7 linked regions of the Homo sapiens genome follow. The protein of the gene in region 7 purifies or fractionates together with the protein of the main gene of each other region. This does not show direct contact. Each region holds a gene or a part of one and is shown on either strand. Other genes may lie near its edges.

What was found.
Region 1: the proteins of TRIM44 (region 7) and CCDC15 purify together in Homo sapiens (affinity purification with mass spectrometry; 2 studies listed by BioGRID and IntAct, with this or other methods). This does not show direct contact.
Region 2: the proteins of TRIM44 (region 7) and KANSL2 purify together in Homo sapiens (affinity purification with mass spectrometry; 2 studies listed by BioGRID and IntAct, with this or other methods). This does not show direct contact.
Region 3: the proteins of TRIM44 (region 7) and DDX24 purify together in Homo sapiens (affinity purification with mass spectrometry; 2 studies listed by BioGRID and IntAct, with this or other methods). This does not show direct contact.
Region 4: the proteins of TRIM44 (region 7) and FGFRL1 purify together in Homo sapiens (affinity purification with mass spectrometry; 2 studies listed by BioGRID and IntAct, with this or other methods). This does not show direct contact.
Region 5: the proteins of TRIM44 (region 7) and DACH1 purify together in Homo sapiens (affinity purification with mass spectrometry; 2 studies listed by BioGRID and IntAct, with this or other methods). This does not show direct contact.
Region 6: the proteins of TRIM44 (region 7) and SPATS2L purify together in Homo sapiens (affinity purification with mass spectrometry; 2 studies listed by BioGRID and IntAct, with this or other methods). This does not show direct contact.

The regions. Positions count from the first base shown.
Region 1 is NC_000011.10:124,952,330-124,957,386, forward strand, and holds the start of CCDC15 (coiled-coil domain-containing protein 15), read left to right. Parts: upstream 1-1,872; 5' UTR 1,873-2,041; intron 2,042-2,394; 5' UTR 2,395-2,403; coding exon 2,404-2,580; exon of another isoform or gene 2,581-4,142; coding exon of another isoform or gene 4,143-4,172; intron 4,173-5,057. UniProt on the Homo sapiens protein: Plays an important role in primary cilium assembly, maintenance, and length regulation. Interacts with centriole inner scaffold proteins to promote proper centriole size and integrity and assembly of functional cilia.
Region 2 is NC_000012.12:48,654,917-48,658,586, reverse strand, and holds part of KANSL2 (KAT8 regulatory NSL complex subunit 2), read left to right. Parts: intron 1-1,804; exon of another isoform or gene 1,805-1,939; intron 1,940-3,526; coding exon 3,527-3,646; intron 3,647-3,670. UniProt on the Homo sapiens protein: Non-catalytic component of the NSL histone acetyltransferase complex, a multiprotein complex that mediates histone H4 acetylation at 'Lys-5'- and 'Lys-8' (H4K5ac and H4K8ac) at transcription start sites and promotes transcription initiation.
Region 3 is NC_000014.9:94,071,203-94,074,702, reverse strand, and holds part of DDX24 (ATP-dependent RNA helicase DDX24), read left to right. Parts: intron 1-3,500. UniProt on the Homo sapiens protein: ATP-dependent RNA helicase that plays a role in various aspects of RNA metabolism including pre-mRNA splicing and is thereby involved in different biological processes such as cell cycle regulation or innate immunity.
Region 4 is NC_000004.12:1,017,635-1,022,040, forward strand, and holds part of FGFRL1 (fibroblast growth factor receptor-like 1 precursor), read left to right. Parts: intron 1-4,406. UniProt on the Homo sapiens protein: Has a negative effect on cell proliferation.
Region 5 is NC_000013.11:71,436,866-71,441,141, reverse strand, and holds the end of DACH1 (dachshund homolog 1), read left to right. Parts: intron 1-449; coding exon 450-487; 3' UTR 488-3,176; downstream 3,177-4,276. UniProt on the Homo sapiens protein: Transcription factor that is involved in regulation of organogenesis. Seems to be a regulator of SIX1, SIX6 and probably SIX5.
Region 6 is NC_000002.12:200,435,085-200,439,490, forward strand, and holds part of SPATS2L (SPATS2-like protein), read left to right. Parts: intron 1-4,037; coding exon 4,038-4,244; intron 4,245-4,406.
Region 7 is NC_000011.10:35,724,748-35,729,153, reverse strand, and holds part of TRIM44 (tripartite motif-containing protein 44), read right to left. Parts: intron 3,231-4,406; coding exon 2,991-3,230; intron 1-2,990. UniProt on the Homo sapiens protein: May play a role in the process of differentiation and maturation of neuronal cells. May regulate the activity of TRIM17. Is a negative regulator of PAX6 expression.

The sequences.
Region 1 (5,057 bases), about 89 Mb from region 7:
CAATAGTCAATTTTCAGTCCTTACCTTATTTGATCTGTCAGTAGGATTTAACACAGATTGTCTGCCCTCAATGGAACATTTCTTTTTCACCTGGCTTTCAAGGTATCACACCCTCATAGTTTTCTTCCTTGGTTTACTGATTAATCCTTCTCAATCTCTTAGCATTCTCCTCCTCTTTTTCTCAGCCTCTGTAATACTGACATACCCTGGGGCTGTTTTAGGATTTATTCTTTTATCTGTCTATATTCAACCCCTTGATGACTCCATCCAGTCTCATGGCTTTAAATCTACAGGCTAACGACTCTTAGATTTATATTTGTAGCCCAGAACCCTTCTCTGAGCTCCAGACACTTTTTCTCATACTATCTTCTCGGATGTTGATTAGATAAAACTTTATCTGCCCCAAACTGAACTCCTGATCTTCCCCTTTCCAAATCTACTCCTTCCACCATCTTCACTATCTCAGTAAATAGTAATTTCATCCTGACAGCTGCTCAGGATGAAACCCCTAGTTTTCCTTGACATCTCTCCCTCACACAATCCATATCCAAACCTTCAACAGATCCTGAAAGTTTTGCCTCCCAAATAGATACAGAATCCAACCACTTATCATCATCTCCACCACTACCTCCTTGATCCAAGACATCACAATCCCTTAACTGAATTATTGCAATAGCCACCTAATTGGTCTTCTTTACAGTCTATTCTCACTACAGCATTCGGAATTATTATTTTTTTAATTTTGTCACATTATGGTGTTCCTTTGCTCCAAACCTTGCTCCAGTGGCTCCCCATCTCAACACCTATGGTGGCTTACGATGTTTGATCGGATTGCCTGCTTGACCTACTGTCTCAGCATTCTTCCACTCTCCCTCTGCTCCAGTCACACTATCCTCCTGACTTTTTCTCAACCAGGCAATGCTTCCACCTTGGGGCGTTTATACTTGCTGTTATATCTGGAACATGTTTATAAAGCCTCCGTTGAAGAGCACAGTGGCTTCTTCCATTAACTCATTTAAGTCTTTGCTGAAAAGTATCTCAGTGCAGCTTCTCTGGACGTTCTAATATTTCATCCCTCCAATCCCCACCCTGCCCACCACACTCCCTATCCGCTTTCTTTGCTTTTACTCCACATCACACACATTTACTTACTCATTGTTTATTCGCTTATTTCCCCTCACTCTATTGTGAATTCCCTGAGCAGGGATATTTGTTTCGTTCATAGCTATGTATCTCCGGTGCTTGGAACAGTACTGGTTTATAAAAAGTTAGTAGTAATGTATGTTAATCGAATGAATAAATTATCCTACAGAGATAATTGAGTGTCTCTGGATTACAGCAGAGCTTGCAGCAGAGAGGGAGACCACTCAACAGGCCGTGATGTCCAAATATAATAAGATGTATGAAACAGTACTGTAAAATTAGCTGCACAAAGGATCCGAAAAATTTGTTAGCTTAGTTTGTTTCTCCAGGAAGCCGTGCCAGGCTCGCCTCCCTCTTTCATTCTTTTCCCGTGATTCCCTCTACTGGGACTCCTGACCCTCCTAGTCGCCAGATCACAGGCCCAACGCATCCCTTTCCGGAGGGATTTAGGAAGTCTCGGCGTTGGTCCAGGAACGACAGTCCCACCGCGCCTCACATGGCGCATTACCCAGCGACTCCGCTTACCCACACGTCCCCGCCCCCTCAGCCGGACAGGAAGAGGAAATGACGATACCTCGGGCGCTCGAAACTCCACCTCTCACGCCTTCCCAGCTCCGGGAGGGGACGCGGGCTCCGGAAAGGGCGGGCATAAGGCTACGGATGGGCGGGACGGAGCAGCCCACCGCAAAGTGGCGGTCTACTTGAGGCGGTTACCTTAGTACTCCGAGTAGACTGAGTCTGTGGCGAGCTGCGGGCCGATTCCTGGCCAGTGCCATCTCAGCCGGAGCAGGCCTCGGGGCCTCAGAAGCAGGCTTTTATCTGGCCCGAGGCTCCCAGCCGTTCAGCGCGTCTTCCCATAACCTATACCGATTATTGGGACTCTCGGCTGCAGACACAGGTCCCCGCCCCTCCCTCTTTCTCCGGGTTGCAGCTGTCATTCCTCCCTTCCCGCCTCGCTGCGCCCACAGCTGAGGACAGTCTTCGTTCTCTCATTCCCATCCTTTCTCTTCCCTCTCATCGCCATTTCTTCTAGAAGGCAACTTAAAAACCTTTCTTTGCCTCTTTATTTCTTCCCATTTCTCTTCCCTTCTTTTCTTCCTTTTTCTCTAGAATCCGTGTGTTTCCACTTCATGCCAGGCTTCTGCCTCCAGGGCTTCTCTCCTTTTCACGGGCCTGTGGCTCATGTGTTAGGAGGTTGAACTTTTAATGCAGTCATTTGAAGATTTTAAGCTTTTTCTTTCTCCTAATCAGGAGTCACAGATGCTGGGAAGTATGGCCCGAAAGAAACCTCGAAATACCTCAAGGTTGCCCCTGGCTTTAAACCCCCTGAAGAGCAAGGACGTGTTGGCAGTGCTGGCTGAGAGGAACGAGGCTATAGTACCAGTTGGGGCATGGGTGGAACCTGCCTCACCAGGTAGTTCGGAAATCCCAGCATATGTGAGTGTCAGTTTGATCCAAATATGGTGGGGTTCCCCACCACCCTTTTTATTAGCCTTCTCTAATCCTGGGTGCTTAAAGATGAACAGTCCGAGGATGCTGTTTCTATTCTGCCATAAATAGTTTATGCTCTTGCATTAGGATTATAGAACAAGTATTTGCCAAAACTTGACTGCAGCTTTAGTTGGCATAATCAAATATTTATTACTCACCTACTATAATATATAGAGCATAATCTACATGGAACAGGTTATATAGATATATATCTGTATATCAGTTTACTTCAGACTCTTGATTGCTTGTTATGCCCAAGACATAAGCACTATCTACATCTTCCAGACACTGCAACTTAGTATGGATGATAGTTGGCATACTTCAAGTAACATTAATTGGTTGCTTAAGGTTTATGATAAATTTTGTAATGAGGATTCAGGCAAAATGGAGTAATAGAATAAAGGAGAAAGAGATGAACTCTGATAATCTGAGAAAGTCTAACTAGAAATTCCATGGTTTCTGATAGTCTTTCACCAAACTGTGCCCCTTAGCTATTTGTTCAAATTTAACTTGGCACTTACCACATTGTGTTATAGTAGATTGTTTATATATCTTTTCCTGATGCAGTGTGAGCTCCTTGAGCGTAGAGAACAAATGTCATTTATCATCACATTCCCACTTTTATCTTAAATACTGCCTAATCAATATAGACACTCATGAAGTATTTATGAAAGGCACAAAATGTCTTCTGTATGTGTAGACAAGGTGCTGAACATGGATGAAAAAAGGATGAGATATGTTCCCTCAGTGTACTTGATCTCAGAAGAGAAATGAGATGTGTTTAAATGTTAAAGTAATGCAATATACTATATTCATTTTATTTATGTTTGCACATATGTATGTATATTCATTGATTTATTCCTACCCTGCCTATTTCCAAAAAGGATTTTAAGAGTCTAGGTGGTATCTCTATCTAAGTTCTAAGAATATAATGCTCAATCAAGAAGCTATGACGTTGGGTTGATGTGACCCAGGAAAGTGTAATGAAGAATTTGATCGGAGAAGGGAAGGGAATGATTCTCCTATTAAGGAGAATGAGGAGAGTAAGAAGTAAGCAAGGTTCAGGATTCTAAGGGTAGATTAGATCGATTGGAGTGGAAAGCTTAGTAGGAGAATGGTTGCTGACAGGATTATGGAAAATAGGGATGGTAGAGTACCTTAGGAAATTTTGGAGAAGGGATTGACTTTGTTTAATATTTACAGGTGAATGTCATGATCAACCAGTGTTTTCTTTAGATGAATTGCTTCAAAGGTTTTGAAGGATAGGGAGTGATTGGATCCTGGGGATAAATTAGAATATAATTATAATAATTTAAGCATGGAGTATAGCATCGAAACTTTGTTAGTGGTAAGAAATAGAGAAGAACAGCCTTGAAAAAGGATGATTGAAGTGCTTGAGCCCACGAATTGTAGGCTGCAGTGAACTATGATCATACTACTGCACTCTAGCCTGGGCAATAGAGTGAGACCCCATCTCTGGAAAAAAAAAAGGAGTGGAATGAGAAGGGATGAATGCAGGAAACACCCCACAAGACTTGGTAAGATTTGGTATAAAGATATTTTGGTATTTAAGTTGTTGACACCTCTTTGTAATTGCTCAAATTACATCTGTATAATATCAGTAGTGTCAACATGCCTAAAATTTGACACCATCAAACTTTTTCTATGTTAAGAAGTATTGACTATCGTATTCACACACATTAACTCAAAATATTAAAGTCTTGGAACATGGATAAACATATCTCCTTTTCCTGATTTAAAAATTTCTGATCAGTTCCAGCCAAAGGGAGTTTGATCAAGCATCTAATAGAACTCCTTATAGCTTTAGCATATCTAGTCTGGGTATCCACCCTTATTAACGGATATAGCTCTGTCAGCTCAAAATAAATGCTGAATAGTTACTTCTAAAGCTTGGCCCTTAGATCATGTCTGTTCTAAAGGGGAACTTCTACTCATTTTTCTCCCCAAAATTTCAGGGGGCCATCAGGATTCCTAAAAATGTCATAGCTTTAGACTACCTCCCCCCAATAATTATTAATAAATTAGCATCAAAAGACACTGCTGTTCTATCATCATATATGGGATTGCATTATTTTATAATTTGTTCTGGTTACCTTTTGCTGTGTAACCAACCACCCCAGAACTTAGTGGTATAAAGCAAATAATACTATGTAACAGGAATTTGAGCAGGGTACAGTGGTAATGGCTTGTTTCTGCCCCATAGTGTCTGGGACCTCAGCTGGGGCTCAAATAACTGGACATGTCTGAGACACCTTGACTATTTTCCGGCTATTGGCTGGAGCTAGACAATAGTCAAGTTCTCCCAGTAATGTGGCACCTGCTGGGCTGTAATGTCCAAGATGGCTTTCTTATTCACATATCTGACGCTTGGCCTAGGATGACTAGAATGTCTGGGTGCTGGT
Region 2 (3,670 bases), on a different chromosome or scaffold from region 7:
ATGGGGTTTCGCCATGTTGGCCAGGCTGGTCTCGATCTCCTAACCTCAGGTGATCCACTCCCCTCAGCTTCCCCAAAGTGCTGAGATTATAGACATGAGACATCGCGCCCAGCTGAAAACATGGATTCTCTTTATATCCTGATACTTCAATTTTTAAAACACTCCTGTTTTAATAGGCATTTTTGCTGATTTTCTTATTTTAGGATCCTTTTCCCAGTTTAAAATCTTATAAAAGACAACCCTTTGTATATATGAGAAAAGCCTTTTCTGAAAACATACACATTCCATTATTATCTTGAGATTTAGATGCCTTTTGATTCAGTGTTTAAATAATTCCAAGCTAGTCATTATTATTTTTGACAGAGTCTCGCTCTGTCACCTAGGCTGGAGTGCATTGGCGTGATCTCGGCTCACTGCACTGTCTGCCTCCTGGGTTCAAGCGATTCTCCGGTCTAAGCCTTCCGAGTAGTTGGGATTACAGGTGCGCCCCACTGTGCTTGGCTAATTTTTGTATTTTTAGTAGAGACAGGGTTTCACCATGTTGGCCAGGCTGGTCTCAAGCTCCTGGCCTCAAGTGTTTCGCCCACCTTGGCCTCCCAAAGTGCTAGGATTACAGGCGTGAGCCACCGTGCCCATTCCAAGCTAATTGTTTATGTAAGAATTGCACATGGGCCGGGTGCGGTGGCTGACGCTTGTAATCCCAGCACTTTGGGAGTCCGAGACGGGTAGATCACCTGAGGTCAGGAGTTCTAGACTAGCCTGGCCAACATGGTGAAACTCCGTCTCTACCAAAAATACAACAATTAGCTGGATGTGGTGGCACGCGCCTGTAATCCCAGCTACTGGGGAGGCTGAGGCAGGAGAATCGCTTGAACCCAGGAGGTGGAGGTTGCAGTGAGCCAAGATCTTGCCATTGCACTCCAGCCTGGGTAACAAGAGTGAAACTCTGTCTCACACACACGCACGCACACACACACACACAAATTGCACATAGTAAAAGAATGGGAGAAAACAGATTTATAGTCTTAATGGTGTGAGAACACTGGTTTCTGTGGGTAGTACAGAAGTTTCCAACTCACCTGAAAATGAATGGTAGGTTGAGTGTATCCTGTGCCCTATGTTTCTGCTTAAATTGAGCAGCTTTATTTTATTATTTTTTTTTGAGACAGAGTCTTGCTCTGTTGCCCAGACTGGAGTGCAGTGGTGCAGTCTCGGCTCACTGCAACCTCTGCCTCCTGGGTTCAAGCAATTCTCCTGCCTCAGTGTCCTGAGTAGCTGGGACTACAGGTATGTGCCAAGACGCCTGGCTAATTTTTGTATTTTTAGTAGAGATGGGGTTTCACCATGTTGGCCAGGCTGGTAATTTTTTGTGGAGACTGGGTTTCACCATGTTAGCCAGGATGGTCTCAATCTCTTGACCTCATGATCCGCCCACCTTGGCCTCCCAAAGTGTTAGGATTGCAGGCGTGAGCCACTGCACCCGGCCTGAGCAGCTTTAAGTAGATTTTAAAATTATATATATTCTTTAATGTGAAGATGTTGTGATTCTCATTTTTGGTGATTAGCACACCAACAAATGGGAAAGGATTGCAAATTCTTAGATTTATTTAAAAGCGTAGAACTAAGCTTCTCGTGAAGCTAGATGAATAGAAACACGGAGCATCTATAAACTGGATTAAACATAGGGGGGTACAAACCTCCTGGATATTTTTAATTCTTAGGAAGAAGGAGAATTTAGCACCAGACTCTTGAAAAGCAGTGGCATGAAAGTTAGTTTGATATATTGTTTGAGTTTGTATTGCCTTAGGCCCTGAATCAAGACCAATGGTTTGCTGTAGCTGTTGGTTTCAAACAGGAGCTAAGAGTGATGTCTTCCTTGTGGTCTGTTGGCTATTCAGTATTCCAGTGCGAATTGCCAATTCAGTTGGAAGAAACATAGTCTAGAATGTAATGTCATTTTTTTTTTTTTTTTTTTTACAGAGCAAAACTATGTTAGGCTTAAGAACCAGGGAGTTGGCCGGGCGTGGTGGCTCATGCCTGTAATCCCAGCACTTTGGGAGGCTGAGGTGGGCCAATCACTGGTCGGGAGATCAAGGCCATCCTGGCTAACATGGTGAAACCCTGTCTCTACTAAAAATACAAAAAATTAGCTGGGCGTGGTGGCACACGCCCATAGTCCCAGCTACTGGGGAGGCTGAGGCAGGAGAATCACTTGAACCCAGGAGGCGGAGGTTGCAGTGAGCCGAGATCACGTCACTGCACTCCAGCCTGGGCGACAGAGCGAGACTCTGTCTCAAAAAAAAAAAAAACAAAACAAAAAAAACCAGGTTGTTGCTCTGTCGGGATAGGGACTTAACCAAAATAATATTTCCTAGCCATTCAGAGGAACTGTGAGTTTTCTGTTGTCCTTCCTTTCTTCCTACCTTCTCCCTTTCCCTTGTTGGAGCTTGTTTGCTTGCTTTGTGGCTGTTAGGATATTAATCAGGCAATCTTGTATTACCCAGCAATATTTAATTTTAACGTAGCATTGTTCATATTTAAATTAATCACTGGTGAACTTACATGTTCATTACAGGTAGCCTCAGAGAATATGCTTTTTTAAAAAATATTTTTTTAATTGTAGTAAAACATACATAACAAAATTTTACTCTTTTAACCTATGTATGTATGTGTGTAAGTAGGTGGGTAGGTAGAGATGGAGTCTTGCTGTGTCACCCAGGCTGGTCTTGAATTCCTGGCCTCAAGTGATCCTCCCACTTCGGCTTCCCAAGGTGTTGTTATCATAGGCATGAGCCACTGCACCTGGCCGTTTTTAAGTGTACAAGTCAGTGGTGTTATGAACATTTACCATGTTGTACAGCTATCACCATTTTCTGTTCCAGAACTTTTTCATCAACCCAAACAGAAACTTTGTACTTTTTAAACAGTAACTCTCTCCTTTCCCTTTCCCCTGTTCCCTACTATTCTCCGTTTCTACTTTGTGTTTCTGTGAATTTTCCTAGAATTTTTTTTTTTTTTGAGACAGGGTCTGGCTCTGCCACCCAGGTTAGAGTGCAGAGGTGCAGTCTCGGCTCACTGCAGCCTCTGCGTCCCAAGCTTGAGGGATCCTCCCACCTCAACCTCCAGAGTAGCTGGGACTACAGGTGTGTGCCACCGCGCCTGGCTTATTTTTGCAGTTTTTGTAGAGACGGGGTTTCACCATGTTGCCCAGGCTGGTCTTGAACTCCTGGGCTCAAGTGATATGCCTACCTTGGCCTCCCAAAGTGCTGGGATTAGAGGTGTGGTGGCCAGAATTTTGTTTTTTAATCTACTGTATTGGTCTATGTTTTACACTTGGCAGCAAAAGCTCTCAGTGCTTTTGGATCTTGTTTCATTTGTTGGACGCTCTTGTAAAATTTTTTTTTTATTAAAGGTAGGCTAGGGTTGAGGGAGACAGCAGAGTATTGCTTTAAAGTTTGCTGAAAAACATGCCAACTTTATTACTGTTTCCCTTGGTATTGCTGATGGGCTTTTCTCTTTTTTCTAGGACTTGGATGTTGTGGGTGATGGTATGCAGTGTCCTCCTTCACCTTTGCTTTTTGATCCTTCACTAACCCTTGAAGATCATTTAGTCAAAGAAATTGCTGAAGACCCAGTGGATATTTTGGCAAGTGAAGAACAGTCCCACCTG
Region 3 (3,500 bases), on a different chromosome or scaffold from region 7:
TAGCAGAATTTTGAATTGTAGTGGTAAAGTGGGCATTATTGCTTTGTGTTTGATCTTCTGGGGAAAACATTTAGTCTTTCACCATTAAGTCTGATCTTAGCTGTAGGTTTTTTGTAGGTGCTTTTTATCACGTTGTGGAAGTTCTCTTTGATTTCTCATTTGCTGAGAGGTTTTATCAGGGTTGGATGTTGGATATTTTTCAAATGCTTTTTTACTGCATATATTGAAATAGGTGGTTTTTCATTTTTAGTCTGCCAATGTGGTGAATGACATTGATTTTCAATTATGAAATTAGACTTACATTCCTGGGATAAACTGAACTTGGTCACAATATACTATTCTAATTATATTTTGTTGGATTTGATTTGCTAAAATTTTGTTGAGAATTTTTGAACTTATGTTCATGGGATAGTTGTAGTTTTCTTGTAATGTTTTGGTGTTGGAATCAGTAATGTAGCTTCAGAATGATTTCTGAAGTATTCTGTTCAGTTTTCTGAAAGAATTTATACAGGATTGACATTTTATACCCAACTTAAATTTTTGGTAGAATTCATCTGAGCCTGCACTTGTCTTTGTAGGAAGATTTTTGACTACAAATTTACTTTGTTTAATAGATTAGAGATATTTGTGTTACTTATTTTTTTCTTTTTTTTTTTTTTTGAGATGGAGTCTCGGTCTGTTGCCCAGGCTGGAGTGCAGTGGTGCGATCTCAGCTCACTGCAAGCTCTGCCTCCTGGGTTCACACCATTCTCCTGCCCCAGCGTCCCAGGTAGCTGGGACTACAGGTGCCCACCACCATGCCCGGCTAATTTTTTGTATTTTTAGTAGAGACAGGGTTTCACCGTGTTAACCAGGATGGTCTCAATTTCCTGACCTCGTGATCTGCTCGCCTCGGCCTCCCAAAGTTCTGGGATTACAAGCATGAGCCGCCACACCCGGCCACTTATTTTTTTCTTGAGTGACTGTTTTCTACTTGCAGTTCTATTAGTTTTTGTTTCATGTATTCTGACAATCAGTTTATGTGAATACATGTTTTATGGATTAAAATATTAGATTATTATTATATCCTCTAAATGAATTGGCTTGTTATCGTTATGAAATGGCCCCCTTTATCCTTAGTAATTTTTTTTTGTTCTAAAATGTCCTTTGGTATTGATGCAGCCAGTCCAGCTTTATTGATTAAGGGGTTAGCATGGTATGTGTTTTTCAATACTATTACTTTCCCTTATTTATATTTAATGTGAATTTCTTATAGGCAGCATATAAATGGGTCTTGCTGTTTAATCAGACAGTTCGTGTCTTTGAGTTGAATTATTGAAGCCAGGCATGGTGGCTCACATCTGTAATCCCAGCACTTTGGGAGGCCAAGGCATGTGGATCACTTGAGGCCAGGAGTTCAAAACCAGCCTGGCCAACATGGCGAAACTGTCTCTACTAAAAATACAAAAAAATAGCCAGGCGTGGTGGCATGTGCCTGTAGTCCCAGCTGCTTGGGGGGCTGAGCCACAAGAATTGCTTGAACCCAGGGGGCGGAGGTTGCAGTGAGCTGAGATTGTGCCACTGCACTCCATCCTGGGTGACAGAGTGAGACTCTATCTCAAAAAAAAAAAAAAAAAGAAAAGAAAATTAATTGAGTTACTGAGATTATTTACGTTTAATGATTATTGATAATGGTGGGTTTACTTATTTATTTTTTGACTGATAGCATACCTGATTTATTTATTTTTTTCACATTTCTGTTTTTTATTTTAAATTTTTTTTTCCTTTTCTATGTTTAGATGTTTATTTTTAATTTTTTTAAATTTTTCCATAAGTTATTGGTGTACAAGTGGTATTTGGTTACATGAGCAAGTTTTTTTGTTTGTTTGTTTTTTGAGACGGAGTCTTGCTTTGTCACCCTGGCTGGAGTGCAGTAGTGCTATCTCAGCTCACTGCAATCTCCACCTTCTGGGATCAAGCCATCCTCCTTCCTCAGCCTCCCAAGTAGCTGAACTACAGGCATGTGCCACCATGCCCGGCTACTTTTTGCATTTTTAGTAGAGACAGGGTTTCACCACGTTGGCCAGGTTGGTCTTGAACTCCTGAACTCAAGTAATCTGCCCACCTCGGCCTCCCAAAGTGTTGGGATTACAGGCGTGAGCCACTGTGCCAGTTTAGTGGTGATTTGTGAGATTTTGGTGCACCTATCACCCGAGCAATATACGCTACACCATATTTGTAGTATTTCATCCCTTGCCCCTCTTTCATTCTTCCCCCCAAGTACCCGGAGTCCATTGTATCATTCTTATGCTTTTGCATCCTCATAACTTAGTCCTGCATATCAGTGATAACATACGATGTTTGGTTTTCCATTCCTGAGTTACCTCACTTAGAATAATAGTCTCCAGTCTCATCCAGGTCACTGCAAATGCTGTTAATCCATTCCTTTTTATGGCTGCATAGTATTCCATCCTGTATATACCACAGTTTCTTTATCTACTCGTTGATTGATGGGCATTTGGGTTGGTTCCATGATTTTGCAGTTGTGAATTGTGCTGCTATAAAATTATGTGTGAAAGTATCTTTTTTGTATAATGACTTCTTTTCCTCTGGGTAGATACCCAGTAGTGGGATTGCTTGATCAAATGGTAGTTCTACTTTTAGTTCTTTAAGGAATCTCCACGCTGTTTTCCATAGTGGCTATACTAGTTTGCTTTCCCACCAGGACATAGAAGTGTTCCTTGTTCACCACATCCATGCCAACATTGTTTTTTTTTTGAGATGGAGTTTCGCTCTTGTTGCCCAGGCTGGAGTGCAATGGCGCAATCTCGGCTCACTGCAACCTCTGCCTCCCGGGTTCAAGTGATTCTCCTGCCTCAGCCTCCCGAGTAGCTGGGATTACAGGCATGCGCCACCATACCCAGCTAATTTTGTATTTTTAGTAGAGACGTGGTTTCTCCATGTTAGTCAGGCTGGTCTCAAACTCCCGACCTCGGGTGATCCGCCCATCTCGGCCTCCCAAAGTGCTGGGATTACAGGTGTGAGCCACTGTGCCCGGCTTTTTTTCTTTTTTTAAGTCAAAGGCTCACTCTGTTGCCCAGGCTGGGGTGCAGTGGCACAATCTTGGCTCACTGCAACCTCCGCTTCCCAGGTTCAAGTGATTCTCCTGCTTCAGCCTCCTTAAGTAGCTGGGATTACAGGTGCCTGCCACCATGCCCGACTAATTTTTGTATTTTTAGTAGACATGGGGTTTCACCATGTTGGCCAGGCTGGTCTTGAACTCCTGACCTCAGGTGATCTGCCCACCTCAACCTCCGGAAGTGCTGGGATTACAGGCATGAGCAACCGTGCCTGGCTGCCAACATCTACTGTTTTTTGATTTTTTGATTATGGCCATTCTTGCAGGAGTAAGGTGGTATCACATTGTGGTTTTGCTTTGCATTTCCCTGATCATTAGTGATGTTGAGCATTTTTTCATGTTTGTTGGCCATTTGTGTATCTTCTTTTGATAATTGTCTATT
Region 4 (4,406 bases), on a different chromosome or scaffold from region 7:
AAGTTGGAGGAGGCCGTTTCCAGCCAGTGTCCTGGTCCTAGCTCGTGTCTTCTCCCAACAGAGGGGTCATGACGCTGCACGTGTGTCCCTGCCTGGGTGTCTCTCCCTGTGCTGAGGGCTGTGTTCTGGGGAAGCACCCCCTCCTTGCTCCCTGTAGGAGCCAGGCCCCATGGGGAGGAGCCACCTGGCCACAGGAGGGAAGCCGGGCAGCCCCAGCCCTGCATCCTCTGTACCTGCCCTGGCCGGCCCCCACACCCACACCGTTCTCCCTACGAATGTCCACTGAGTATCTGCTGTATGCCAGGCCTCGGGACACCACGAGCACGGGAGAGGGGCTTGGGTGTGGGTTTGGACCACGTGGCCAGGACGGGCCCTTCCAGAAGAGATATTGGAGCCCCCGAGGAGCTACGGGGTGAGGGGTGTCGGAGAGGGCACTTCAGATGGGGCAGGTGTTCGGGGAGCTGATATGAGGGCCTGTGAAGACGGGGAAGGGCAGGCCGCAGGGGGTTCCTGCCTCCGTCCCTCCAGACTGCAGCTTCTTCCCCTCCATCCCAGGGCCTGCCCACCTCCACCCTCCCTGGGCCCTGGGAAAGAGGAGCCTCTGTCTGGGGACAGTGTGTGTGTGACAAAGCGTGTAGGCAGAGCGGCCTCTGGGCCTTGCTGCTGTGGGAAGCCCCTGCTCCTCCTCCTTCCCTAGTTGTGTTTTTTACAGCTGGGCAGGGGTGGGGGGGGCGGCGGGAGGATTTGGAGGCATCCGCCTTCTTGGCGCACTGCCTCCGAGTCTAGTCCTCCATACCTGACAGCAGTGAGGCCCTGTCTCAGACTCAGTTTACTCTCATGTCTCGCTCCCATGTGGCCCTTGGTGTCCTGCCTGTGCTGGGGGCCTCTCGGCTGTGGCTAAGTGTGTGTGCAGGGCAGGGGCTGTGCTGGAGGAGGAGGCTGGGGGGTGTCTTGGCAGGGTGCACGGCCCCGGAGGTGGCACAGTGCTGCTGTCATGCCCCGGCGGGGGTTCCCTGTGTTTCTTCCTGGCTGCAGTGCGAGGCAGCCGGTCTTCCCACCAGGTGCCTGTGCCCTCAGGTCCTGACTCAGTTTCCCCATAGGCTGCGTGGGTTGGACGCCCGTCCAGGTGGCGTGGTGCCCTGGCCGCTGTCCTGGTGTGATCATTCCCCAGGAATCTGGGGGGATGGGCTTCCTCCTGGGCAGGCCCTCCTGCGGGGGGTCTTGGGCCGGCAACAGCAGGGGGTCCGGGGAGCCCAGGTGGGGGTGGGATAGGCCTGGCGAGGGGGAGGGAGGCTGTTTGCTTTAGGATAAGCCTGGCTCCTCTGGCCCAGCTGCCTCTGCCCGTGCCTACAGCGCTTGCAGGCCGGCCCTGGGGGCCACGCTTCCGGCCATCCAGCGGTCATTTGTCTCTGCCCCCTTTCTCAGTGGTGACCACAGGCGGGGGTCCCGCCTCCCTGTCTGTGCCTGTCATCCTGCACCTCCCGCATGCCTTTGGGGACCCTTACCTCACCAAGCCTTGCTTGTATCTGCCTGGGGCAGGGTGGGGGCTGGGAAACCTTCCCGAAGTGTAGCTGGGGCTTTCAGCCTCTGAGGTGGGCTCCCTCCCCAGATGTGGGGGGCTGGGTCAGTGTGCTCCCACCCAGGACAGGGCCAGGCACTCGCTCTCTTGCTTCTTCTGGACAGTTGTGTGGGTGAACACTTGTGTGCACCCATGAACATGCACGTGTGAGGCCTGTGCCCAGGTAGCCAGCCAGGAGGCCCAGGCACCCCTGCAGGCTGTGGGCCACAGGGGCTGGGCTGGCCAGGGGCCTTGGCCACTCCCCCTTGGTCCCGGGAGGCCCTGTGGGTGGTGGGATTTCAGGCAGCGACAGGTGCTGGTGGGGTCAACCTGGGGTGCGTCTGGGACCTGGGCCGGCTGGGAAGGGGTCAGGAGGCCCCAGTGCTGTGGGCCCTGCAGCCGCTTCCTCCCCGGGACAAATTTGCCAGAGCTGCCCCCAGCCCTGGGCAGCTCACAGAACCACACTGAGGGGGTGGTGGGCTGGCAGCCCCCCACAGCCGCCATCTCATTTCCTCTCCGGGGAGCTGCAGGGAGGGTAGGGAAGGAGGGGCTTCAGGGCTGGGGCCCATGGCCTGGGTGGGAGGGTCCTGAGTTGAGGGAGAGACGTGAGTCAGAGAAGAGACCCCCACATGTTTTCTCAGAGAGGCCAAGGACTGGGATGGGCCGGGTGAGCCAGGGCTGAGAAGAATCCCTCCCTCCAGAGCCTCAGCCCACCCTTTGTGTTTCTGGGCACAGCAGGGAGGCGCCGTGTCTCCACTCCCAGCCCCAGCGGCCAATGATGCCTGTGGGCTCAGAACCTAGAGGCCCTGGGCAACGCCCCCTGTGCTATCAGCACTGATTGGGAGGCCTCCAGAGAGGTGATAGGGATTCTCTGTGAGGGTCCCTGTCCCCAGACTTGGGGGTCAGAATGGGAGCTGCTCCCTGAGTGTCTGAAGACGCCAGTGGGAGACGTCACAGGGCCACTGTTAACTGTGTATTGGAGGAACACGCGGCCCCAGGCCCCATCGAGATGGCCTGGAGCAGCTGCTACCTCTTGGTGTTCTGCACGCAGCCTGGACGCTCCCAGACAGCAGTGGCTGCAGTGCGGGATGGACACTGTCACCCATGGGCTGGCGAGAGATGCCCTGGGAACTGTGGGGTGCCTGCGGCCGCCTCTCCGACATGGAGAGCAGTGAGTGGGCTGTGGTCGCCGCTGCAGGACTTGGGAGCAGCACGTGGGGAGTGGGGCACGCAGGGCCCTCCTTTCCCAGGAGCTCCATCCAGGTACAGGCCCTGCGGTGCCCCGAGTTTCTGAGGCCTGCAGGGTCTGTGTGTTCTAGGTTCATCTTCCTGGCCGGCTTGGCACTGCCCACTGGGGCTGGTCACACACACACAGAACCCTGGCCCTGCCTTCCAGCCCAGAGGCACCCAGGCAGGGGATGGGGTGGGGTGGGGACTGAGGCAGGGGATGGGGTGGGGACCCAGGCAGGGGATGGGGTGGGGACCCAGGCAGGGAATGGGGCGATGGGGCGGGGTGGGGACCCAGGCAGGGGAAGGGGCGGGGTGGGGACCCAGGCAGGGGATGGGGTGGGGTGGGGACCCAGGCAGGGGAAGGGGTGGGGCTGGGGTGGGGACCCAGGCAGGGGATGGGGCGGGGTGGGGACCCAGGCAGGGGAAGGGGCGGGGTGGGGACCCAGGCAGGGGATGGGGTGGGGTGGGGACCCAGGCAGGGGAAGGGGCAGGGCTGGGTGGGGACCCAGGCAGGGGATGGGGCGGGGTGGGGACCCAGGCAGGGGAAGGGGCGGGGTGGGGACCCAGGCAGGGGATGGGGCGGGGTGGGGACCCAGGCAGGGGAAGGGGCGGGGTGGGGACCCAGGCAGGGGATGGGGCGGGGTGGGGACCCAGGCAGGGAATGGGGGTGGGGTGGGGACCCAGGCAGGGAATGGGGTGGGGACCCAGGCAGGGGAAGGGGTGAGGTGGGGACCCAGACAGGGGGTGGGGTGGGATGGGGACCCAGGCAGGGGATGGGGTGGGGCGGGGACCCAGGCAGGGGATGGGGTGGGTTCCTTTCTGCCAGGAAAGGAGGCCTCTGCCAGGAAAGGAGGGCTCGGCTTCTCCACATAGGGTGGGATGGTGCAGGTGGCCATGTGGAGCCGCAGCCTTTCTGCTCCTGTGGGTTTCACAGGTGGTGGGAGGACATACTGGCTGCCCCCCAGACAGGAGCGGCAGTGCCCGTGGTCAGCCCGAGCTACGTCTCTCCAGAGGCTTGCTCTCTGACCCCAGGGCCTTGGGGTCATGCCCCCTCAAGGCTAAGGTGCCTGGCAGGGTACGGCCCTTGGGGGTGGGCAGACAGACCTGGGCATCTGTGGTCCCTGAACTCAGGTCTGATATTGACACAGACGTGGGTGCTGCACAGACTCTCATCCACACATTGCACAGGCTCAGGCAGCCCGCCGTGCTCGGTTGCTTGTGGATAGCTGTGGGGTCGCTGGCCCATGCCCAGGCCCGGCTGGGCCCTGGGCTGATGGTTGGGTGGGAATTAGGTGAGGGGCCTGGGGCCTCTTTGGGACCCACCAGGCCCCCCATCCCCCTACTGCCCTTGTCCTTGGGGGGCCACTGTCCCCTCTGACCTCGGGTGTACGGCTGCTTCCTGTATGACCAGAAGGAGACTCTGCCCTTTTGGTTGGTGGTTTTCGAGAGTTACCAAGCGCAGCTGTTTTGCATCCTCTGGGGACCCTGCTCCCTTCTCGTGTCTCAAAGAGCCAGCCTCTGGGGCCACGGGGCTGCCCCGGCCATGAGAGGCTGCTGACGTGGTGTTTGCTGGGCCAGTGCTCAGGGCTTTGGTGCATGTGGGCAGCTGAGGCCTGGG
Region 5 (4,276 bases), on a different chromosome or scaffold from region 7:
TACATTACATGGTATATTTAACAACACTGCTAAAGAGTAAGATGGGAGTTCAGTCTTTCCTGATGGAGATACACCTGAGTGCATTCAGAGAAAATTTGGTTCTGCAAGCTTGAAGGAAGTAATTGTTATTCAACAGAAATCAACTAACTTTGCATATCAGTAAAATACACACACATACTCTTAGCTATTTTCTGAGTGCTCTGGAACTGATATCAAAATAGCAAATATATATTTATGAGAAGTAGAAATGCTGTATTCTTTTCAGTCACATAAACTCAGTGTAATTATGAAATTAACTTAACTTTGAGAAGATATGAAAAATGTTACTTCTTAACCAAGTAAAGATCTAATAAAAACTACAAATTTTATATCAAGTTACATCATTTTTACATGCACATTTGTACCCCAAATACCATGCCATTAATTAATTTTTCACTGTTCATTTCTAGATGGAAGACTGTATTTGAAAACTACTGTCATGTACTGAATCTTTCCTGTTGAAGAAATCCATGTTATAGAAAAGAACTTTGCAGTCAGACATTCGTCATGGGAAAGTTCAGAAAAAAATAAAGTCCTTTTAAGGGAACTTCCTGAATTTTGTGTATTAATGTTCTTTAAAAGTTTAAGTATTCTACAAAAAAAAAAAAAGTTTTCTCCATTGATTTTCACCTGTGGTTCATACCAGAGACCTGAGAATGTTTGTAAATGTACAAGTATCAAAGTTCTTACAGTTAATTACTGCAACTTGCTGCTGGACAATTGTATACAGAGTTAAAGGCAGGTCTGAATAAGACCTAGCTTTGTTTTTTTCTAATGGAATGAACCATTTTCCTCTTCTGAAAATTCTGTATCTGAGCACATCAAGAGACTCTTGTAGCAGTGGTTACCCAGACTTACAGAATTATGTCCTCCAGAAACCAGCAAGAACACTTGGAATGAACGAATGAACTTGTAGGGGGCATAGAGGATTCTTGAAAAAAAAAAATGCAAGAGTGATTTTCTGTTACATTCAATTTCAAACTCTCTAATTGTGGGTTTTCTCCTGAAGAATTTTTTTTCACATACTTTCCAAAAGACCAACAAATGGATGTTGACAACAACCCAATGAAATAACATTTTGCATATCTGAAAAGAAGCATTGAATATAAGCCAAAAGCTTTCACTGAAGGTTTTTTTTTCTTAAAAATAAAAAAAAATATATAAGTGTAACATGTTTTCATTCCAAACTGGTAGTGGTATGTAGAATTAAAGATAATAATGTTGCTTCTTATTCAAACTGTTGGTCATATGTACAGTATATAAACATAAAACACACAAGGAAGGTATTATGTATGCAGTAGTATACTAGAGTTTAGGAAAATGAAAATTTTAGAAAATATGTTTTGTCACCCTGTTGGTCAGAAAGATGTCTTTCTGGTTTTAACGCATGCAGGCATGTAAATATTTGTCTGGAGTCACAGTATTAATGAATGAGATCTTAAGCATCTGGTGACATCAGAACTCTGTGTCAGCCACTTTTATTTGTATATTGAACCCTAGCTAGTGCCCCAAGCTGCACTATTGGGAATGGATTGTGGCTGAACAGCAAATCAAAACACCAGAAATATTTTTATATGTTAACGTCATATTATGTTAATGTTGCTGAAAACAAAACCTAACAAACCTTGATGTACCAGTCCAATACCATGTAGCGCTGAGTGATAAAGTTAAAATGTGCTGTGCTTCCCACCCTTGTCAGAGGGAAGGGTGGCTATGTGTTATTTTCACTGTCTTTTTGAAAGTTACAGTATGTGTTTTCACTTTCGTGCAGATAACTGGAAGTAAAGCGGCAAACAGTGCTTATTACATGCTAAAGTTACCTTCTCTTTGTTTTTTGCATATCTGGAATTACACCTTTAAAGACTGATATGAATCAGTACGGTCACTATACATTTTATGATTTTTCTGTCATCTTAAAATTGTATGATCGTAACATTATTTATTACCACAAAACAGCAAAATCTTCAATGTCTAAGAAAACTAGCTTAAAATGTTTAAATATAGTTCTGATTGGGTATTAATTACTTGATTAAGAAAAAATTAACATTATAGATACTCTGGCATTACGCTTCTATACCTTTTAGGTCTTCCTTGCAATACTGGAACATAATTCTTTTGTGTAGCTCACTATTAGCCAGCTAAGTTCATCTTTTTAATACCATAAAAAGGTTATATGTACAGTTCCTATTTTAGCTTGCTTACAAAGGGAGCATTATTTTTATTTAAAGTATTGCTAGTAAATGATTTGTAGAAACTTGGTTTTCTAAGCATAGTTCTTCCATAACCACCTTTTGTTGTTTGAGCACAAGGGATTCTTTTCCTAGTTCTATGTGTTTGTTTCCCTATATGCAGTCTTTAAAGGATTACAACACTTAAAATTGAATGGACTTGTGTCAAGCTTTTTGCATCATACATTTTTTGAAAGATTTTTAAAAAAGCCTACAACTTACATATGTAGTAGAATCAGCCATTGCTCTGCTCCTGGCATAGAGTCACCTGTTTGTTATGTGGATTAAATAGTTTTAAAATACATATTTGAAGACCTTTGAGAATGCTTTAGTGTTTGATTTGAAATAAAAGGAAATTTTAGCAAGGATTAAAGAAAAAAGCTATCAGCTGTATGTTAAGAGAGACTCTTACTAACATGTTGTAAATATTACAATTCATGAAATGTTATTGTAAGTCTGTAACTTAATTTTTTCCCTGTTTTAGTTATACAGGTTGGTTTGGAAATTTGTGTTTTGGCATAAACAAGTAAAATGTGCCCATTTTATGGTTTCCATGCTTTTGTAATCCTAAAAATATTAATGTCTAGTTGTTCTATATTATAACCACATTTGCGCTCTATGCAAGCCCTTGGAACAGAACATACTCATCTTCATGTAGGACCTATGAAAATTGTCTATTTTTATCTATATATTTAAAGTTTTCTAAAAATGATAAAAGGTTATTACGAATTTTGTTGTACAAAATCTGTACAAAAATCTGTTTTTACATCATAATGCAAGAATTGGAAATTTTTCTATGGTAGCCTAGTTATTTGAGCCTGGTTTCAATGTGAGAACCACGTTTACTGTTATTGTATTTAATTTTCTTTTCCTTTTCAACAATCTCCTAATAAAACTGTCTGAAATCTCCCTGTGACTTTATTTACAGTTCATCTTTATTAAATTTTGTGAAATGCATAGCATTGAAGGAATATTTACTTTCTAATGGGAGGCATCTAAAAACAACACAAGTCAGCTCTTTGCAATGCAAGGGGAACAATGCTCAATGATTTTATTTAACATGCAACTGCTTCTATCTCTAATATGAATTACTGTGGTGAAAAACATCATAAAAGCACACTCTGTAGTTATTGTTTAACAAGCAGATTTTCCATATTTTGTTTCTTGCCAGCTAAGCAAACTGCCCACATATACATGATTTATTTATGTACATTTCTCAGTTTATGAAGCTGTTATTTGTACCTTTTTTCTTTATATTCTTATATTCCCATGATTCTTATTTCACAAAGCTTTGTGCTGAATAATGCAAAGTAGACATGTTGATGGAACAAAATATATTATTCCCATATCTATGAGTGGAGATTTGTAACTCTAACTCAGTGTTTTGCTTTTGATCTCTATCTTTGGAAAAAAAATGCCTTTAGAAACTTTGAAATTACAATATCCTTTAATAATACATAAACACTTTAATCAATCAAAAGTGCAGCATTTGAAGAACTATCGGGTTGCTATCTCTGTGAATATTCTAAACATTCCCAAGAGAAAGGAAAATGAATTTTTCTGTCTAAAGGTATGATTTTAATGAATTCTTGAAACAGTATATTAAATTATGATTTTTTTCCTTAATAAAACCTAAAACGTTTATGATGTGACCATTACAAGCACATTTTTGTCTTCTGTCATCATATGTTTATGTCAGTAAGACTAGCACTAGAACATCATGCAGTCTCTGGATGTTAGTGAAACTCAGTGATAATTTAGGTTTGCCCCCATGTGTTTTCATTGAGACTAGCAAATTTATAATGTTCACAAAAGCTATTTATTACTAGAGGAGAGTATCTTATAAATATGTTATATGGATTGCATTTTTAAAATATGGGAAATAGAGATGTTAATAGAATCAAAAAGCTGTTGTAAATTGCCTTACAAAAATATCTTTTCCTTATGTGCAGGCTTGATGGTAACATTTATCTTTACTATATGACTTGTATATAAAAGCTGAACTTATC
Region 6 (4,406 bases), on a different chromosome or scaffold from region 7:
CATTATTTTTTCACATTTTACATACTAGTTATTAAGGTCAGTCTATTTCTCATTTATTGCCTATTAATAAACCAGAGCTGATACACTGTGCACTCTCCATATGTGTCTGTTGAATCCTTGAATCAGAAACCAACGTGATACTCAGGACATTATATACCATTTGTGTGTATATACAAAATTGGGATTTGGTAAGTGTTTTCAATAAAAGGAATGCTCACGTAATAGTTAAATTCAAAGACACAAACTTCTAGGAGCCATTTTTAGATACATGGACAAGGATTAAATTAAAATGTATACAATTTTTATTGAAATCTAGGCAGATGGTGTGTTTCCAGAGATAACTTTTCTTTCCAAGATACGGCTACTGTGGAATCTAATATTTGATGAATATTAGATAAAGACACAGCCAGAGACTCATATCAAACGAGGCTCCCTACAACTGGAAGGGCCGTAGGCATGCATAGCACTGAAGTAACACTGATTCATTCATTCAGTATTTATTATGTATCTACGAGATACCAAGCACATACAGTAATGATGAACAAGACATACATCACCCTGTCACCACTTTTCTCATGTAGAAATTGCAGAGGATATTTTAAGGCTTCACTAAAACAAATACCCTTTTCTAGAATATAAATTAGTAGTGATTACACACTGAAGATCAAAACTCTCACACTCCTTGTGTATCCTATTAGTGTTATCCAACAGAAATTTAACACATAGTATGTATATAATTTTATATTTTCTGGTAGCCACATTTAAAAAGTGTAAACAGGTGAATTAAATTGGGTAATATATTTTATTTAACTTAATGTATCAAAAATATCATTTCAACATGTAGTCAATCTTTTTTAAATTATTAAAGTAATATTTTAAATTTTTTATTTTGTACTAAACCTTCACATTTCAGCATATACATTACACTTATAGCACATCTCAATTTGGACAAGCCACATTTCCAGTGTTCAACAGCCACATGTGGCCAGTGGCTACCTTACTGGACACTGGAGGCTTATGTGTGAATCAGCCCCCATTGAGCTACAACCTGTTGAAGTTTACAAGTGGACTCCCGATAAATGGAGAGCTGATGGTATTTCTGGACTATAATGTTAGAGGAAAGTCACTGGATACAGTGACTTTCTGTTATAGCTCTATAACGCTCCACCAGTTTTCATCTGCAAGAGTCCCAGAGTTTTACTATATTTGAAGACAGATCTATACTAAAGTAACACTGATACATTCATTATTTATTATGTATCTGCAAGATATCAAACACATGCAGTAATGATGAACAAGACATACATGCATGTCAGACATACATGCATATATGCAAATATGTACAAGTGGTCTTGAAGATTTTAATGTTCAGTGATTTCACTAGTAATGAGACAGCTTTTGAGGACCTAAAAAAAATCTCTACTCACATTTCTCAATTGATATCTGATGGGGAATGTTGAAACGAACCAGTAGACCATATATCAGTTCTCTGATACACAAATAAAATGTTTTCAGCTCTAGGTTAATGAGCCTATGCTCATTTGCATGCTTGGCTTCCATTTAAAATTCTTTTGCATTTCATTACAATAATTTTTTCCCTCTGCTCTAAGGTCATTGTTTCCATTAAGTTATAGTATAAATCCCCTTATTTTCAAGAATATGATCTCTTTACGACACTATACACGAAGATCTGTGTTTTAAATTTGATATGGTTTGAATGTTTGTCCCCTCCAGATCTCATGTTGAAATGTGATTCCCAATGTCAAAGGTAAGGCCCAGTGGGAGGTGATTGGATCATGGGGGCAGATCCCTCATGAATGGTTTAACACCATCCCCTTGGTGATAAGCGAGTTCTTGCTCAGTTACTTCATGTGAGATCTGCTTGTTTAAAAGTATGTGGCACCTCTCCCCTCACTCTCTTGCTCCCATTCTCACCATGTGGTATGCTGGCTCCCAGTCATCTTCTGCCATGATTGTAAGCTTCCTGAGGCCCTCACCAGAAGCTGAGCAGATGTTGGCATCATGCTTCTTGTACAGCGTACAGAACCATGAACCAAATAAACTTCTTTTCTTTAAAAATTACCCAGGCTCAAGTATTCCCTTACAGCAATGCAAAAACAGCCTAACCCAGAATTCTCAATTTATAGTATCTCATCCAGACTGCCTCTCAACTGGAATTTAGAGAGGTAGTGACTTGGAACCAGTTTGGACGTGTCATTGTTTTAACACAAATGTTTATAGACTCAACATAAAATTAGTTTTTTAATCTTTTACAGTAGGGTTTCTCTGGGTGGCTGGTACCACCCATCTCCACTCCAACAGAATCACCTGGGGAGGAGAAGCCTGGGCCCACAGCTGAACTGGAATCTCTAGAAATGGTGTTCGGGAAGTTGCATGTGTAATAAGTACCAAGGGAAACTCATTTCACACTGAAGTTTGACAGCCAGTGCCTTATAGTGAAGTTCTACCTTAATATCACTAAGGATAAAATTGCATACTACCATTTGAATCTGTTTTATTACTGGAGGAAATGCTGTTTTCAGTACTTATGTACTTTGTTTACTACCTTTGCTGAACATTTTGTGTACTGTGAGTAAATTTTTAAGGGTATTCATTCAGCTCATAGAAAGTATGTTGTGCTTTCTTGATATGTAAGTTATGAATGATGGATTCAACTGAAGTCTAATTATATTGATCATGAATGGACTAATGTCTAAAATCAAATTGACTAGGACCTAGATCATATTCCTTTGTATTTTTTCAAGTGTAGTCTCTGACTGTGTCAGGTAAGATATTCATTGTTTTTTATTTTTTTCTATGAAATTGTTTCAAATGTACTTTAATTAGATCATAATTCTACAGAAAGCCATCGAGCCAGACACAAGTACTAGGGCTTCAAAACAGAATTGAACTCAGTGTTTGCCCTTGGGAAGATTGCAGCCTCTGCAAGGCAGGGGTGAGGGGCAGATATGGAAGCCTTGTGTTAAAATATAAAACCGTGGTACCATGGTTTTAAGTAAAGCAAGGTACCATGGGAGTAGAGAGAAGCAGGGCAAGGGTGACTATCTGAAAAGGCTGGGTTTTACAAAGATGACTGTGTTCTGTTTGAGTGCAAGCCAGTCAGCCAGACAAGTGAAGACATTCCCACAAGGTCACCCAGGACATAAGGAATACCAGAACTTGGTTCTCCTAGATCAAAACTGCACTCATCAAGCTTTCTACAAGAACCTGGCCTTCAAGAGCACACTGGCTTCCCTTTTCTCACACCCAAAACTTTCTCTGGTAGTAAGATGTTAAGAGTGATACATTTCCGTTTCAGGCCACTAACATGCTATTTAATTCATTCCAGCAATAACTAAATGGGAACCTACCTTTAAAAGATGCCAAAAGCAACATCCTGCTAATTGATTGCCACATCTATTAAATCTCCAGAGAGAATCTGACTCCCTAGATTTTAAATATAGTTGAGATATTATGATGATGTTTTCTGATTTAAGCCCTCCATAAATTAGATGCAATGATTATAGTATCTGTTGTCACTTCATTTTTGCTCTATCTCCAGTCACGCTTCTGCCTTCATTAATTCGGAATGAAATATCACAAGACATTAATGTAGCACTTGGAGATAGGAGGGCTACATTTTTATAGCCTCAATATGAAATTGTACTTAAAAGACTCATAAGCCTTTACTGGAATAGCAGGGGGGAAAAGGCACTGCTCATCTTCTATAAGCCTCTTAATAACCTTCCTGGATAGTTATGGATGAGGAAACTAGGGCTCAGAGATGCCCAGGGTCACTCTGCAAGTAATTACCAGAGCCAAAACATGCCCAGGTCTTTCTACTCAAAATACAAGGCTCTTCTAGTACACCCTCTAATCTTCTGGGGATTCTTTTAAAACAGTTTCTTGACTGTTTGCAATGAAAGGCATTATTGCCAATATGTAAACAAAAACAAAAATCTTGGCATCCTCCATCACTTTATCGTCAGTGTTTTTAGTTTATCACTTCACAGTCATTATTTGGTGTTTTCTTACAGAAGGCAACAGACTACTGCAACAGAAACTATCCTTAGATGGGAACCCCAAACCTATACATGGAACAACAGAGAGGTCAGATGGCCTACAGTGGTCAGCTGAGCAGCCTTGTAACCCAAGCAAGCCTAAGGCAAAAACATCTCCTGTTAAGTCCAATACCCCTGCAGCTCATCTTGAAATAAAGCCAGATGAGTTGGCAAAGAAAAGAGGTAAAGTGATTTCTTTTGCACAAATGATTCAACATATTTTGCACATACAGAAAAGTGCCAGAGTGACAGAACTTTCCAAAAGATGCTGCTTAGTGAAGAGAGATGCACATGAAATTGCATTTTTTTTTCTGTGACCCACATAGATGGAAAGGCAGAGGTGAT
Region 7 (4,406 bases):
TTCCAGTTTGTAGAACACCCAGGCTAGCATACATAGGAAGTAAAGAAAACCCCAGGGAATTCACTGCCTTGTATCCTCTCAAATCCCAAGGTCCCTGATCAGTATGCCATCTTTTTTCCACCTGCAAGAGTCTTTTGGTAGATGATTTCAGCATTTTTGCCCAGAGATTTCTACTGTAATAAGTGAAAGGAGTAAAATAGAATGTGTTTACTCCATCTTGCTCAGAACCAGAAGCTGCAATTTGCTTTAAATATGCCAAAAATAAAATAGATCAGTGAGTGGAAGGTTGAAAAGATGGCTAGATATGTAATGAAGCAAGTACGGCAAAATGTTAATAGGAGAATCTAGGTGGTAGGTACATAGGCATAATCTGTAAAATCCTTTCAACTGTGGTGTATGTTTAAAAAATTTTATAATAAAATGTTGGAGGGAAGGTCTTATGGCTGAATTCAAAATGCAGGTGATTTTTGATAAATTCTATACCACAAAAAGAACATAATTCCTCTGATGACTGAAAGACAGGTACTAGATATTTGCTCTCACCAATAAGTTACCAGATTAACTGGAACAAGAGGCTATTAAATAATAACAGCTCTTTGTAAACACTCTAGTGGCTGAACGCTATCTCTGTTTTTAATAGCTCATTTTGTCTGTAGCCTGGTCCTTAAGCCTTGTCAGCTCTTGCATCCCTTTAAGAGTAATTCCATCAGAGTTAACAAGCATAGTACAGCTGAGGTGCTTAAAGGACAGCTAATGTCAGAGAAGGACTAAATTCATAGATTAAAATAAAAGAGAAGAATAAACCCCAAAATTAAACTTTTTTTTTTGAGATGGAGTTTCACTCTGTCTCCCAGGCTGGGGTGCAGTGGCTGCAATCTTGGCTCACTGCAACCTCCACCTCCTGGGTTCAAGCGATTCTTCTGCCTCAGCCTCCCAAGTAGCTGGGACTGCAGGTGCTCGCCACCATACCCAGCTAATTTTTCTATTTTTAGTACAGACAGGGTTTTGCCATGTTGGCCAGGGCAGGCTTAAACTCCTGACCTCAGGTGATCCTCCCACCTCGGCCTGCCAAAGTGCTGGGATTACAGGCGTGAGCCACCACGCCTAGCCAAAATTAAATTTTTATTTTTCAAAGAACAACCTAATCAACATAGGGAATAAATGAAGGGGTCGAACTTGATAGGAACTGTGGACAGAATTATGCTGTCGATCCCTTGAATTAACTCTGGTTGAACCTTTTGTTTATTAAGACACAAACTGACCATCTTGACATTGTAAAGGTATGCAAAGCTGTCTAGAACATGGATTCTTCTCATTTTCCCACAGATACAGATGGGATGCTTAGCATATGTCTTATAGTAGGGGGAAAGCACAGGCACTGAAATAGCACAGACTTAAATCTAAACCCTGGCTCTATTTTCTACTGACTAAATGATATTGGGTCAGTATCTCTGCAGTTCTCTGTATCTCAAATATCCCATTTGTAAAATGGAGTTAATGCTGACGTAAGGATTAAATGAAATGATGAATATAAAGTGCTCTCTTGCCTATCTAGAAACTTATGTAGGCACATAATTTCTCAATTATGGGGAGAATAAAATGAAAAGAAGAAGAGTTATTCTTTTCACACATTGATGAAAATTAATCAAAAGCCCTGGATGGGTATAGCAGATACCTTTCAATGGTTTCTTACATTTCCTGTCAGGATAGCTTGGAAATACCTGCCTCCTGGATTACTTTGGCTCTTCTACTGGCCAGTTTATTCTGTGGCCAGGCTCTCTCAAGCCAAGGCAGGACGTCCAGTTAAGGATGGACTTGCTGAGTCAGCAACAGTCCTAGAAAGTCCACAGGACTCTCCTATGTTTTTTTTCTAGAAGGACCTACCCTAAACCTATCTGGCATTACCTTCACTAGAATTGTCAAATTATGAAATCTGATTAATAGTAGCCTCTCTCTAGTGGCTGAAATATAAGTTTTTTGGTTTTTTTTTTTTTTTGAGACAGGATCTCACTCTGTCACACAGGGTGGAGTGCAATGGCACAATCACAGCTCACTGCAGCCTCAACCTCCGGGGCTCAAGTAATCTTCCTACCTCTCCTGAATAGCTGGGACTACAGGCAGGTGAGACCATGTCTGCTACTTTTTTATTTTTTTTTTGTAGACACAGGGTCTCACTATGTTGCCCAGGCTGGTCTCAAACTCCTGGACTCAAGCAATCCTTCCACCCTAGCCTCCCAAAGTGCTGGGATTACAGGCGTGAGCCACTGAGCCCAGCTTGTACTTTTTTTTTTTAATGGCTACCTTAAATAATTTTTTCAAAGTAGATTCAAAATGCCTAAATATGTTGTTTGGTAAAATGCCTAAGACCCTTTTATTCCCGTTAAAAATAACAATGAATATGACAACTAACATTTGTATAGTGATTCAACATTTACCTTGTGTCTTTCATTCATAGTTTTTTTTTTTTTTTAATCTTACAATGCCCTAGTGCACATGCCATTCTTAATCCAGCAGTTATGCCTCCAATTTATGCAGCTGGCTCCATATAACAACCAGCTTGAGACACCTTTTCACTATGTACAAAGTAAGTCCAAAATCTTTCATTCTGGCCTGCTTTATGCTCTACTTCATGATTTGTTCTCATTCAGCCCAGGTCTATGATGACTTTAAAGGCTCATTTCACAACTTGGGGTCTGTCGCTTGCCCTCTTCTCTGGCTGTAATTTTTGGCTTCCTTTCTTAATTGTGATTAGTATCTGCCCCCACTGACTATACTCCTTAAAGTAATGATGGATAAATAATTTGGTAGGCCCAGCCACTGAGTAAACTAGTGGCCAATACTTCCATACTGGTTTATACACCATGTGAAACACTTATACTCTACCTAGACTTCAATTCATTCACGTTCAGGGACCACATGGGGTCTAACAAATATGGCATCAGTTTCCTCCTATTTCTCTTGCTACTAATAATTATGGGCTTTTCCTTTACCTCTGCCTTTGGCTCAGCTGATTCATTAGAGGTATCAAGTTGTTCCTTGGCTTGGGCCATCTGAGTCATCAACCTATCCATGTGGGATTGGATGTCTGCCAGTATCTCAGTCACATGAGCTGTGGCCATTGCCTCTTGGATGTCCACTAGATGAAGGGCCTTCTGCTCCTCATCAGCAATCACTTTCTGAACTTTCTTAAATTCCTGCTGTATAAACATCTTCATTTGGTCCCGAGTTACCTTTAGAACAGAGACAAATAAGAAGAATAAGTTGAACATACAAAGAAACAAAAGGGCAGAGTTATTACTATACAGCCCTGGCCAAAATACACACCATGGATCCTATCCAATCCTAAAGTTTTGGGAATATCCTAAAAACAATGTTCCCCTAATATCATTGATGAATTTCCTGCTAATCTTTTTGCCTTTTTCATTCTTCAGGGAGTAATTTCTTATCCTTTTTTCCTTTCGGTTTTGTTCATTTTTATACCAGTAATATATACGATGAATATATACAGTAAAAAATGAGGCCGGGCGTGGTGGCTCATGAATGTAATCCTAGCACTTTGGGAGGCCAAGGCGGCTGGATCACTTGAGGTCAGGAGTTCGAAACCAGCCTGGCCAACATGAGGAAACCCTGTCTCTACTAAAAATACAAAAAAACTTGCTGGGCATGGTGGTGGGTGCCTGTAATCCCAGCTACTTGGGAGGCTGAGGCAGGAGAATTGCTTGAACCAAGAAGGTGGAGGTTGCAGTGAGCCCAGATCGCACCACTGCACTCCACCCTGGGCAACAGAGCAAGTCTCCATCTCAAAACAAAACAAAAAACGAAATTCTTCCTCTCCGCCCCAATTACTGTTAATAGTTTGGTATGTATCCTCCCAGCCATTTTTCTATATAGTTATGTACATATATGTATATAGATAATTAAGTAGTTTTTATATAAATGAATCATAGGGAAAATATGGTTGTCTTACTTTTCTACTTAAGATATATTTGTGCATACAGATCAACTTCATTCTACTATTTTTACTATCTGTATGATATGGAGATGGAGGGTGTGTGTGTGTGTGTGTGTGTGTGTGTGTGTGTGTGTGAGTGTGTGCATGTCTCCTAGTTAACCATTCCTCTCTTAATGGAAGTACAGGATATTTCCAAATTTTTGCTTTTATAAACAACACAGCAATAAACATCCTTGGCTATATCTCTTAATATACGCATATGAGTTTTTTAAAGATGTTTAGAGCCACTTAGTAAATTGGCATATACTCTAAAAATATTGGTTCATACTGCCAAGGTGCCTTCTGAGAAAGATGTATTGATTACATTCCTACAACAACATATGAAAGTAAGCATTTTCCTACACCCTTGCCAATACTGGATTATATCAAGCTTTTAAACTTTTACTATCATGGG